Regions from separate parts of the Homo sapiens genome. Here regions 2, 3 and 4 are each reported to be linked to region 1. The links are microRNA targets in miRTarBase. Many come from high-throughput screens and were not tested one by one. Region 1 holds a microRNA gene; each other region holds the end of a gene's coding sequence.
The links. The annotated mature microRNA hsa-miR-3942-5p reads AAGCAAUACUGUUACCUGAAAU and lies in region 1 at 2,041-2,062, shown strand. An mRNA with a match to its seed (bases 2 to 7 or 8) in the 3' UTR can be bound and repressed. Matches are read on the target gene's strand: a 7mer-m8 pairs with bases 2 to 8, a 7mer-A1 pairs with bases 2 to 7 and ends in A, and an 8mer does both.

Region 1 (3,084 bases):
TATTAATATAAACAATAGAAGTACTTCCCAAGGCACTAAAGTGATATGAGGAATTTCTATTTTTAAATTTTCAGTTGAAATTCAAAACATTATTACTCTCTTAATAAACAATAAAAAATAATTCATTATTAGAACTTTACACATAATCTTAGTTATTCAAATGTGCTTTACAGGGTATCTTTGATAAAAGTTGAGTTAATTTACATGTATCCATATGGTGCCAGCATGCAGTTCATACCATTTTACCTGAATGTGGTCATTACTATGTCAGACAATCAATTTTAATAGCAATGATACTGCAGTGTGAAGAGTTCATCTAGAGCTTAAAATCATCACCAGTACTGCTTTTGTGAAGGATAATTGAGATTTTGTGTGAAACATTGAATGAATTACCTCTTGAAAATGAAAAGAATAATGAAGATAAAGCACTAATGTTTAATGCTTAGCCTATACCAAGCAAATACGTGAAAATGAAATTGAACAGGAATTTAAGTCTTAAAATTGTTCAGAGAGCTTTGAGTGAACCTGAAAGTTGAACTCTTATGTTCTTATGAAGATAGAAAGCCTCATTGTTTTTTCTTAAAAGCTTAGTATACTTGAACCTTTTCCCAATTAAATACTGGGTTATTAAAAATATTTATTAATCACTACATGTTGTATACCAATGGAGATAAATATAAAACAAGAATGTTTAGTCTCTTCTAGTCAGTAGGAGGAATGATTTGTCACAATTTTTGTAGCATATAAATGTATTGTAAAATTTTTGTATTTCAGGGATTCATCAGAAGTAGTCATACATTCAGCTGATGCATTTGCACCTGTGGCTTATCTACGCTTTTTAGAATTGCACTTGGAGGACAAGGCAAGTAAATCTAAGATTCACAGTGATTTCAATAGAAATTTGAGATATATACATTGGCTTTGCATATATAATTCTGTAACAACAGATGACAGGAAAAAGAAAATTGATTTTTATCATTAGTGGTTTTTTTTCAGCTCCTCAGTCAATAACTAAGAATTTTACAAATGCTTATAGTTTTGAGTTATATATGATACAAAAGATACTACATTTATGAAAAGTTTGCAGGTCAGTTAAAAAGGGAATAGTATATACATTAAACAATGGGAGGACAATATAAAATCAAATATTAAATCATCTAGCAGGATCACATTTAAGTTACTGTACATAAGCATTAAGGGAAGGGTTTGAGGATAAATTGGATTGTCATTATTCAAAGCTTAAGAGAGGAAAAGGAGAAATAAAACCTTTACAAAAATATCCAGGAAAAGAGAAGTAAAAATGGAAGATGGAAAGTGAAGCAAAATTACAATAAAGAGTTTTATTTTAAATACACTGTCAAGATACAGTAAAATTTTAATTTAAAGATATCTTGTGGAATAAAGTTCTGGATTAGATTCCTTGATTGAGAGGTCTCATCCTTCAGATGTTGCTTTATATTAGTTACCATAAAAATGATAGCTGAAATTATGTGAAGAAATGAGTGTAGTGACAGAAAAGGATTAGAAAATGTCTTCTGTATATTTAGTGTTCTTTCCCCCAAGTCTTGAGGCACACCCACAGTTACATATTTTACATCATAGGAAATCTGAAGGAGTAAGAGGATTAACAAGAATTCGGCAAAAGTAGGAAAAGAGTGGTAATGCCAAAAATCTCAAGATGAGAGGGTTTCTACAGGTGAGGATAATTATAGGTGCCAGTTCTCCAGAAGAATGACAATGGGCAGGATTAAAAATAGGTTGTGGAATTGGGCTGGATGATGACTATTGGTGACCTTTTATCAAAAAGCTGGTAACCCCCACAAGAATTAAGTTACACTATCCAAATGTTTTTCAGATTTACTTGAACCCCTAACTTGTAGTTTTCTGCTACTTTTGCTACCATGTACGCACACACAAAGTCAAAAGCACTGAATTCATGTGTAGGCATTCCAGCCATTCTATGTTCAGCTCTACCCGAATAGCTCACTGTTCACCTCGTTGTTTTGGTATTTGATTGGTCTTCAGTATGACACCTCAAAGAAGCAATACTGTTACCTGAAATAGGCTGCGAAGATAACAGTATTTCAGATAACAGTATTACATCTTTGAAGTGTCATATTCACTGACACTGAATAAATATGGTGCATTTTCCTTCCCTTTCCTTCCCTTTTTTTTTTAGGTGTCCTCAGTGCCTGACAACTACAGAACATCTAATTATATATATAATTTTTGAAAAGTGTTTTGGAACATTGTTCATTAAACCACCATTTCTATACAAAAAAATTGCATAGTATTTTCTCAGTTACTATGACTAGTTTATTTTTTTCTCATGACTCTTATTTTTTTAGAGAAACATACTTTCACTAGAAGAGGTTAGTGGAACCATTTATTAATTGGGAAAATGTCGACGGCATGTTCATTAATAGTGCCAACTTTCTTGGAATTCACTCTTTCTCTTTCGTTAACACATCTTCCCTATGACCTTTTTTTTCTTTTATTTCATCTATAAACCCCATTTCTGTAGCATTTCTTTTTTTATCACACTAGTTTCTTTTCCTCCTTCTCTCTTTCTTGCTCCAATCCCTACCAATAATGTCATGATGCAGAGGCATTTGAAAATGAAGATGAAAAGATGGTCACTTTATTTAGCCAGTCAAGCTTATTCTACTGGGTGTCGCCAAAGCGATTTATCATTTTTATTTTAAATATATTCATGGTTGAAGTGTTTCAACGTTATTGGACAATTAGGAAGAATGTCCTTAACTCTTACAAGTTATTTTATAACTGATTTTTAAAATGCTGTTTTTCAGTATTAACTATGTTGACCTTAGAAAACTTTTACAAAAAATAGACTTTATGTTTTAGAACAGTTTTAGGTTCACAGCAAAAATGGAGCAGAAAATGCAGAGATTTCCCATATACCCTCTACCTCCACACATTCACAGCCTCCCCTACCGTCAATGTCTTATAATAGAGTGGTACATTTGTTACAACTGATGAACCTACATTGACACATTATTATCACCCAAAGTCCATAGTTTACGTGAGGGTTCACTCTTGGTGTTGTACATAATATGGGTTTTG
Region 2 (3,084 bases), not on the chromosome of region 1:
ACATCCGGCTAATTTTGTATTTTCAGTAGGGACAGAATTTCTCCATGTTGGTCAGGCTGGTCTCGAACTCCTGACCTCAAGTGATCTGCCTGCCTCAGCCTCCTGAAGTGTTGAGATTACAGGTGTGAGCCACCGTGCCCAGCCTAAGCTGGCATGTTTTAAGGCAGTTACATCTCTAACTTGATTTACCAGCTATGCTTGAGGGTCCAAGGAGCCAAAATTGCAGCCAAACTGATCTTAAAGGACCAGGGAATAGAATGGTCAAGCATGTTTCCAAGTTTAACCTAGGCCTGGCACATCCTTGCCAATTGCTCAGATGGCAAGTGAGGGGCAACTAAGTGAAGAGAATAGCAGGAAGACCCACTTGGGGTGGACACTGATGAAAAACACAAGCAGTATCAGACTCACTGTTTTCAGGATTAAAATCCCCAGATGCCCTGTTATTGGTCTATGTCACTACCAGTAGGACAAAAGGCAATGCTTCTGAAGACTAGAATATGCAAGGAAAAAATTAAGGTGCCTGCCTGCCTGGGGCCTAACGAGCCAAACAGTGCTAATTTCATCCATGCCAAACAAAATTGTTCATTCCTTGCTGATTTGGGTTTTAAGGAACCATGCTGATCATCAGAGAAACCAGGCAATTCTATTCTGAAGCCCAGGGGAAGAAATGGTGGGGATTTCTGAGTTACAGATGGTGCAGGGGTTAACACTATCTGCCACTATGAAGGGAAAAATCTATCTTGGTAAACTTTGGTCTTCCATAGGACATGGAACCAGAGTAGCAAGATCAGGGCCTGCGTGACCGATCCTGATTGAGCAGGACTTCCTCACATAAGGTACACAAGAGCTGGGCGCAGTTGCTCATGCCTGTAATCCCAGCACTTTGGGAGGCCCAGGCTTGTGGATCACTTGAGGTCAGGAGTTTGAGACTAGCCTGGCCTACATGGTGAAACTCTGTCTCCATCTCTACTAAAAATACAAGAATTAGCTGGGTGTGGTGGTACATGCATGTAATCCCAGCTGATCAAGGGGCTGAGGCAGAATCACTTGAACCCAGGAGGTGGAGGCTGCAATGAGCTGAGATCATGCCACTGCGCTCCAGCCTGGGCAACAGGGTGAGACTGTCTCAAAGAGAAAAACAAAACCCATAAGATGCACAGGTATCTGAGAAGGGTCTAAACACCCTAGAACTGCAAGCAAAATTTTGAGTGTATACATGTTTTCCTGGCGAAGGGGTCCTCATTCTCAAATCCTGAGCTTTTAGGAAAAAGTACTAAGCCAGTTTCAGGTTACGATACAAAAGCCACCAGATACACTTAGAGCCAGTCAAGTTTGAGAATTCTCAAAGCCATCACTGAAAAGTTGGAACACATACTCACAGCAGAGACAAGTGAACATTTATTTTTATGCCTTTCTTCCTATGTGTATTTCAAGTCTTTTTCAAAACAAGGCCCCAGGACTCTCCAGATTCAATTATGTCCTTGGGCTTGGTCGACTGCTGCAGGAGTCTCAGGGAGCCTTCTACAAATGCTAGAGTGACTCATTTACCAACATTAAACCCTAGGATACATGCAACAAAGCAGGACTCCTTCCTCCATGGAATGTGCCGATTTCAGATGACACAGCACCCAATGCAGAAAACACTGGAATTTTTCCTTGGAACTCGACTGTGATGAGAGGTGCTTGACATGAACATATGCTACTGTCTTTTCTTTTTTTTTGAGACAGAGTTTCGCTTGTTGCCCAGGCTGGAGTGCAATGGCGTGATCTCAGCTCACTGCAACTTCCACCTCCCAGGTTCAAGCGATTCTCCTGCCTCAGCCTCCTGAGTAGCTGGGATTACAGGCACGTGCCACCATGCCCGGCTAATTTTTGTATTTTTAGTAGAGATGGCATTTCTCCATGTTGGTCAGGCTGGTCTCGAACTCCCAACCTCAGGTGATCTGCCCACCTCAGCCTCCCTAAGTGTTGGGATTACAGGCATGAGCCACCACGACCGGCCAGCTACTGTCTTTTCTTTGACCCTTTCCAGTTTCTGAAGATAAAGCAGGAAATAATCTTCTCTGAAGATACTTGATAAAAATTTCCAAAACAAAACACATGCTTCCACTTCACTGATAAAAAATTTACCGCAGTTTGGCACCTAAGAGTATGACAACAGCAATAAAAAGTAATTTCAAAGAGTTAAGATTTCTTCAGCAAAATAGATGATTCACATCTTCAAGTCCTTTTTGAAATCAGTTATTAATATTATTCTTTCCTCATTTCCATCTGAATGACTGCAGCAATAGTTTTTTTTTTTTTTTTTCCGAGATGGAGTCTCGCTCTGTCGCCCAGCTGGAGTGCACTGGTGCAATCTTGGCTCACTGCAATCTCTGCCTCCTGGGTTCAAGCGATTTTCCTGCCTTAGCCTCTCGAGTAGCTGGGACTACAGGCACGCGCCACCACACCCAGCTCATTTTTGTATTTTTAGTAGAGACAGGGTTTCACCATGTTGGCCAGGATGGTCTCAATCTCCTGACCTCATGGTCTGCCCGCCTTGGCCTCCCAAAGTGCTGGGATTACAGGCGTGAGCCACCGCGCCCGGCCAGCAATACAGTTTTTAGTTACTCGACATCTTTAAGCCTATAACTCTTAGGCTATGCATAGCCCCATGTCCTAATCAGGCATTCACTGATCCCAGCAGGTCTCCATCTATTTGTACCAGCCTCCTCTATTCCTCCCAATCTCAAGGTTACTCTTAAATACTAGTAAATGCAAAAAGAACTTGTAAAGTGGCAAGGCATGGCCTATCAAAAGTCAGCCCAAGGGCAGTTTTCAGCCCTGCCTCACCTGGGTCTAGTTCAGCTGACGGATGAGCTGATTGATGCGTTCACCCCGATAGCCAGGTGTGCCCATCTCCTTGAGGAAGCCCACTCTATTTTTGGTAGCATGACGGGCCACTGAGAGGTGGAAAGGGCACAAGAACCATGAGATCTCCTGGAAATGCTTCCCTGGGAAGGCAATTTCATGAATGAGGTCTTCCAAGCAAATGACGCCAAACTTCCCTAAGAAACACAAAAGCACAGATTCCTTTATTTAACA
Region 3 (3,084 bases), not on the chromosome of region 1:
AACATGGTGAAACCCCGTCTCTACTAAAAATACAAAAAAATTAGCCAGGCATGGTGGCAAGCACCTGTAGTCCCATCTACTTGGGAGGCTGAGGCAGGAGAATGGCGTGAGCTTGCAATGAGCGGAGATGCGCCACTGCACTCCAGCCTGGGCGACAGAGCGAGACTCCGTCTCAAAAAAAAAAAAAAAAAAAAGATGTGCAGCGCTCTACAACTTCTTCAGCTGACATTGCGTATTTATTACACTTTCTCTCCACAGATGATGCCAGAAGTCCGGGGAGCCTTGTTTGGTGCAAATGCCAACAGGAAGTTTTTGGACTAAGCCTTCAGGAGGTGGAGCTCGTCGTCAGCTCTCCTGCTGTGATGTGGAAGCTTCTGATATTTGAAGAAACACGAATGTCTCTGTAGCTTCCTCTTCACTGCCCCAGTATTGCTCTGTATTTATCAGCGATGCCCCTCTGTCACTCATGCCTTGCCTAATTGTTCACAATGGTGGAAAGCTTCATGTAATATGATCAGGACCCACCTCCAGTTCTTCTGAAAGTGTGACAGTGTCCAGCCGGTTCTGCAGCACTAGGGGAGGGGGCAGATGGTGGTTGCATGGGCTTCCTGGGTCTCCACTCTCCGTCTGGCCTAAAGGTGATGTATTTGGTGTTTGGCCCTGCAGTCCCCACTCTTGAGGCTTAAGGCGCATGTGGCACACCACTCCTTCCAGCAGTAGTCGCTTTACTGTTACCTGTTTAGGCCTAGAAGTTTTCCCTCATCTGTAAATGTGATTTAAAATCTAAGCCATGAATATGCTTTATTTATTAAAAGAGTTATGCGGATTTAATGTGATTTCTAGTGTAAGGCACTACAAATTTAGGTTTTGACAGAGTCAAATTCTTACTGAGGCACCTAGAAAAGAAGTATTTTCCCAATCCCCGTGGCACTTGATGGTGACAGCTGTCAGCACCTGGACCCGTTAACCCTCTGGGGGTCCCCTGGGCTGTTGCCCGTTGTTCCCAGCCCATCACCAGGAGCATTCTTTCCACCCTTGCAATCTTCCACACACCCCACATGGCTCTTCAGCGTGACGTGCACAACTTTATTGAGGAAATAGTTTTATTAGTGTTGCCCGAATGAGAAAAACCAAGTTGTTTGTTTTTTCTTTTTCTTTTTTTTTTGAGACGGAGTCTCGCTCTGTTGCCCAGGCTGGGGTGCAGTGGTGCCATCTCGGCTCACTGCAAGCTCCGCCTCCCGGGTTCGTGCCATTCTCCTGCCTCAGCTTCCGGAGTAGCCGGGACTACAGGCGCCCGCCACCACGCCTGGCTAATTTTTTGTATTTTTTGGTAGAGACGGGGTTTCACCGTGTTAGCCAGGATGGTCTCGATCTCCTGACCTCGGATCCGCCTGCCTCGGCCTCCCAAAGTGCTGGGATTACAGGCGTAAGCCACGGCGCCAGACCCAAAAAACCGAGTTATTTTGGAGCAGGTCACTGTGTGCTGGAACCAGATCCTTTCACAGAGGCCCTGTTCTTCCTTCCCTGTCCCATGTTTTATTTTTCCGTAGGTGACGACTAAGAGCTGCCCAGGGCCTTGCAGCTAGTACATGGTGGAGCTGGGACTTGAACTGAGGTCTGTCTCCAGGGCCCATACTCAAATGCAGTTCTCATAACAGAGAGTGAGGCCCCCAGGGCTGACCATGTTAGCACCATCCTCTTCCTTGTTAGCCCAGGTTTCACAGTAGATGGGACTATTGTAAACACCAGCTCCTGCAGCAGGTGCTGATTTTCTTAGGACTTGGCCCTGCTGCTGTGACATTATCTCTCCTGTAGCAGCCTTTGGGGGAGGAATCGAGGTGCGTGAGGAGGGCTCTCACAGCAAACTCAGCTCCTCAAGACGATTCACTTATGAAGGGATAGAATCAAGGCTTAAAACCCAGTGTCACTAACAAGCAGATATTTCCCTATGGCTGTGTTCCTCCACCCCCACAAGTAACAGTTTGAAGAGTGACGGGGGTCTGCTTCTATGCCCTTTTTAATGTTTGGTTTTGAAATGGACGTAGAAAAGTAGATGGTGATAGCATTCACTGCAGCCTATCTGCTGTACCCACTGATGAACAGATGAGATTTTAGCCATTCACCTTTATTTCAGAGTGTTCCTTGGTTACAGGGAGGGGTGTGCAAGACCCTGGGCTCTGGGGGAGGGGCTGAGCTGCCCAGTCAGAGCCGGCCTCAGCCCCCTCAGCCATCCAGGGATTCGAAAGGGTGCTTGGTCTCAAACTAGGTGCTGACTCTGAGGGCTTTCACGGTCCCTTGAACTTCTGATCCTCCTTTTCCTCAAAATCAGTGCTAGGACTCATAAGTTATGGAGTCCAAGATTAACAATGCTAAATCCTCAAGCTGACTGAAGAATGCCGAGTTTGACTGTGAAATAGAAATGTTAAAATACAGAAACAACCCTTCTATTGTGACTACCTGTTAAGGTCCTGCAATTAATACAACGAAAGTACCATTTTTGTTGAAAAGTAGGTGGTTAGGGGCTTCCAAAAGCCCCTGGTAGCTGTGCCCACAAAGGAAAACGAGTGTAGACACGAAGGGGAAGAAGGCTGTGCTCAACTTGTTAGAATATAGGGCTGTTTCTCCCGAGATTGAGGTAGCACTACAACGCAGAGGACCAGGCAGGCCAGAGTGGCCCCACCTGCCCTTGCCCCCTCTAGGCTAAGTGAAACAGCTAGAGAGAGGGCGGCAAGCGCAGGGACTTGACCTCCAGCTCTGTCTAGTCAAAACACTTTAAGATGCGCTCTCCAATCCCAATAAAATAGACCCCTTGAGCAATCCCAAAGAGAGGTGCTATGACCAGTGCCCGGCAGCCAGCGCCTTTCATGAAGGCAGATGGTCCCTCCTGAATCCAGAGTTTCCTGGGGAGAAAGAAGAGCCAGTGAGCTGATGGGCAGGGGCATTCTGCAAGCAGCCCTCAGTGGCAGCCTCTCCATTTGTGCACCTCTCATTTTAGAATAGTGCCTTCCACAACAAGAGCAAGAGGCCAACGGTGTGGGAGCTGTGCCTCGCCCGCTAGGTGCATGCAGGTTGGTTACTTATGCA
Region 4 (3,084 bases), not on the chromosome of region 1:
GACAGCAAAAACACTCACACGGTACCAGTTTCATATCAAAACAAAACACACAAGTGCTTTTTCAATATTAAAACGACTGTGATAAAAACATATTAATATTTTGAACCATGTTTACAATAGAGCAAAATTCATATTTTACTAAATAACAAATATTTAACAGCAAAAACTTTATACTAAATATCTATTTTGAATTATAACAAAAATAGTACTTATAATAGTTTATAAAGACAGACACAAAATTATAACATTTATGAAAAAAAAGGTTTGTGTATAAAATAATATTATAGCCATCTGGGCAGGGTCACGGTGGTGCCCAGAACACAAACGCCAGCGCCCAACATCGAAAGTGCTTCAATCTGCAAGCCCGTGGCAGGAAGAGTTTTGTGGGGTTTTGTCTTTTTAAGGTCAAGTTGCAATAGTTAGGGATGATAAGTAAGAAACATCACCCATCTAATGCTAGCTGTATGAAACACACACGCACACGCACAGACACGGGCATCTCACTAGAGAGCTGAAAGGAGGGACCAATTACAACACAGGGATCCTGTCAGCCAGCCAGAGCTTTCTTCAGCTCTCTTCTCACTGCCTTTGAGACCCAGCGGGGCAAATGATCCTTCTTTCCTCCCTCACAGGGACCCCCCTCAGCTTTTCCTTCTCTGCCCCCTACCAGGCTGGCCACCCCCAGGGAAGGCCCCTGAGACCTCCCAGCCCCATGCCCCCTGCCCCTCACCTGGACCAGACCCAGTGGGCTTGTCTGAAGTTCCACTTACTGCTCTCCTAGATACTCAGTCAAAAACAATTGGTTCAGGGCCAGCTGGATCAGTTTAAAGGAAAATGAACCTCCCAGACACTGGTTTTGTGTTGGGGGGAGGGGGTACAGGTCCGGGTGCACCATGTAGCTATGTTGCAAGCTTTGACAAGTCTTTACCCATTCTGGCCTGTTTTTCAGGATTAGGGATGAGCAATTTTGCCAATAATGTCTATTCCACACTGTTTTTTAGTAGTGGAAAAGTAGGAAATAAATGAAACATCTGAGACTCAGGGATTGGAGAGCAGTCTGTGTGGTATGGGCCCGTTCCTATAGTCTATCTTCAGGGTGGCTGTGAGTGGGGTCAGGGTCGGTCTGTGGGGCTGCCTACGGGATCTGGTCTGAGGGAGCCACTGAGGTGCTCACAGCAGCGATCGGGGACTGGCATGTCCTTCATTCTTCTGTGTTTTCGATTTTCTTGTAAAGGGGATTCATTGCTTTTACAACATCAAAAACCAATAAACACAGAAAGCAAGGAAAAATCTAGAGACTCACCAAACGCCCGGAAACCTTCCCCAGGAGGCATCCCAAATTGCCAACACTCAAAACGCCAGTGGCAGGAGCTACTCCTCTTTCACCCAGTCATCCCGACTGGCCAGTTTTCAACCCAATCCCCCTGACAAACCGCACGTAGCCGCCTCTTCAGCTTCAGCTGCGGCAGCCTTCCCGCAGCTGTCCGGAGACCACACAGGGCCCTGCAATCAGCTCCGAGGCAGAACTGCCGCTGCGCTCACCTCCCCCACGCTTTCGCCTCTTCCCCACCCCTGAGCTGGGCTAAGCAGACAGTGGCATAGAGGTGGAAGGGACTTCAAGGACACCTTTTTCAGGGCGGAGGGCAAAGGGGGAGAGTTAAGGAAGGGAAGACGGAGGCCCTTGCTCCCCGTCAGAAGAACCCGTATCCTTCCCCATACTCACGCCTGGAGTCAGGGCCAGTGCACTGGGGTGAACAGGGGCCAAACAGGAAATCGTGGCCGCCTCCAAATCTACCTGATCAGGGTTTTTGACAGGAGAGGGAGGAGGCAATGGGCCACATTCCATCTCCACCAGGGATAAGGCAGAGGCACCGGACTTCAGTCCAGGAGTGAGGCTCCGAGATTAAACCCAAATAATGCCCGGAGCCGGGGAAGGCTTTCAACCCTAGGCCCTGGGGGCTGGGTTTGACCAGAGACCCCTTCCTCTTCACTCACAGAAGTCTCGCCAGGACAGCTAGAACACAGGCTAGGGCATGAAGGGGAGGAGATGTTCACTCCAGACCCCAGCATCCCCAAGATTCTCTATCAGTGAATAAATATGGGGGCGGGCAGCACATGAGCCGCGGGCCTTAGGCGGCTGTGTGTAACAGGGCCTGGTTCAGCAGGGGATGGGAAGGTGGGGGTGTCAGTGCACCTGCCCAGGGCCACCAGGGAGGATGCTGGGGAGACAGGGCCTGGGGCTCCTTTGCCCCAAGGTCAGAGGACAGAACAAGTAGCAGCAATAGGTAATTTCAAATTGTCCAAACTGGTGAGGGAGGGTGGGAACCGTGGCATAGGGAAGGGCAATCTCCAGGTTGGACGCAGCCCCCGCCCCGCCAAGGTTGACTCCTGTTCTGCTACCCAGGATGCTGTTCCTGGGCAGACGCAGTGGGGGCGCAGGAGGAGGAGACGCTGAAGAGTGCGCCCAAGGGGGCACGGCTCTTCCCGTCCCCCAACCCCAGCTAAAAGGGTCCGAAAGGAACGGAGGGAAGGGAGCAGTTCAGAACATCACAAAAACACTGTAGCACGCGCTGACACCTAACACTGTCACGGGCATGCAGAGCCCCTGCCACGCCCTTCCCAGGGGCTGAGCTGATGGTAAATGGGGAGTGGCTGGAGGGAAGCTGGAGCCAGAAGGGGAGCCCAGCCCTAGGAATGGGGCCCACTGGCTTTGGGTAGGGTTTGCCAGGGAGGGGGAGCAAGGGAGGGCAAGTATGGGGGCCACTCGCCCTCCCCGTTCCGGCCCCCTCCCACACACAGGTTTCTACCTCCCACAACCACCACCCCGCTGCCTGGGCTGGGCTGAGGCGGGTGGGTCTTGGGTTAGACTGTGGCGCTCAGCATGGCCTCCGTCTCCGGCAGGATCTCGTTCTGGTTGGAGTCCAGGCCAAAGAACTTGACGCTGAGGCCATCCACGGGGTGCAGGACGGGGACCAAGGTGATGCGGGGGAAGGTCCGTGTGGCCAGCTCAAAGCGGCTGGTGCTAGCCAGCTCCACCGCCAGCACCTTCAGGAACAGCTTGGCCAGGTGCTTGCCCAGGCAGGT

Region 2: miRTarBase lists RPL7L1 as a target of hsa-miR-3942-5p. Seed matches in the 3' UTR shown: 7mer-m8 at 2,590-2,596, 7mer-m8 at 2,284-2,290 and 7mer-m8 at 2,160-2,166.
Region 3: miRTarBase lists ATP6V1E1 as a target of hsa-miR-3942-5p. Seed matches in the 3' UTR shown: 7mer-m8 at 428-434.
Region 4: miRTarBase lists CYP26B1 as a target of hsa-miR-3942-5p. Seed matches in the 3' UTR shown: 7mer-m8 at 2,278-2,284.

Annotation. Positions count from the first base shown.
Region 1 is chr15:35,371,299-35,374,382 of GRCh38, reverse strand. MIR3942 (microRNA 3942) reads left to right here and starts at 2,019; the gene lies at 2,019-2,127. DPH6 (diphthamine biosynthesis 6) reads left to right here. Exons shown (of 9, transcript NM_080650.4): 8 at 775-862; 9 at 2,180-3,084. The coding sequence ends at 2,233.
Region 2 is chr6:42,886,219-42,889,302 of GRCh38, reverse strand. RPL7L1 (ribosomal protein L7 like 1) reads right to left here. Exons shown (of 6, transcript NM_001366481.3): 6 at 1-3,047. The coding sequence ends at 2,839. Among named protein-coding and RNA genes, the nearest start is that of PEX39, 3.1 kb to the left of the region's middle.
Region 3 is chr22:17,589,911-17,592,994 of GRCh38, reverse strand. It overlaps ATP6V1E1 (ATPase H+ transporting V1 subunit E1), which reads left to right. Exons shown (of 9, transcript NM_001696.4): 9 at 259-859. The coding sequence ends at 321. It overlaps SLC25A18 (solute carrier family 25 member 18), which reads right to left. Exons shown (of 11, transcript NM_031481.3): 11 at 2,000-2,900. The coding sequence ends at 2,759. Among named protein-coding and RNA genes, the nearest start is that of SLC25A18, 28 kb to the right of the region's middle.
Region 4 is chr2:72,129,365-72,132,448 of GRCh38, forward strand. It overlaps CYP26B1 (cytochrome P450 family 26 subfamily B member 1), which reads right to left. Exons shown (of 6, transcript NM_019885.4): 6 at 1-3,084. The coding sequence ends at 2,863. Among named protein-coding and RNA genes, the nearest start is that of CYP26B1, 17 kb to the right of the region's middle.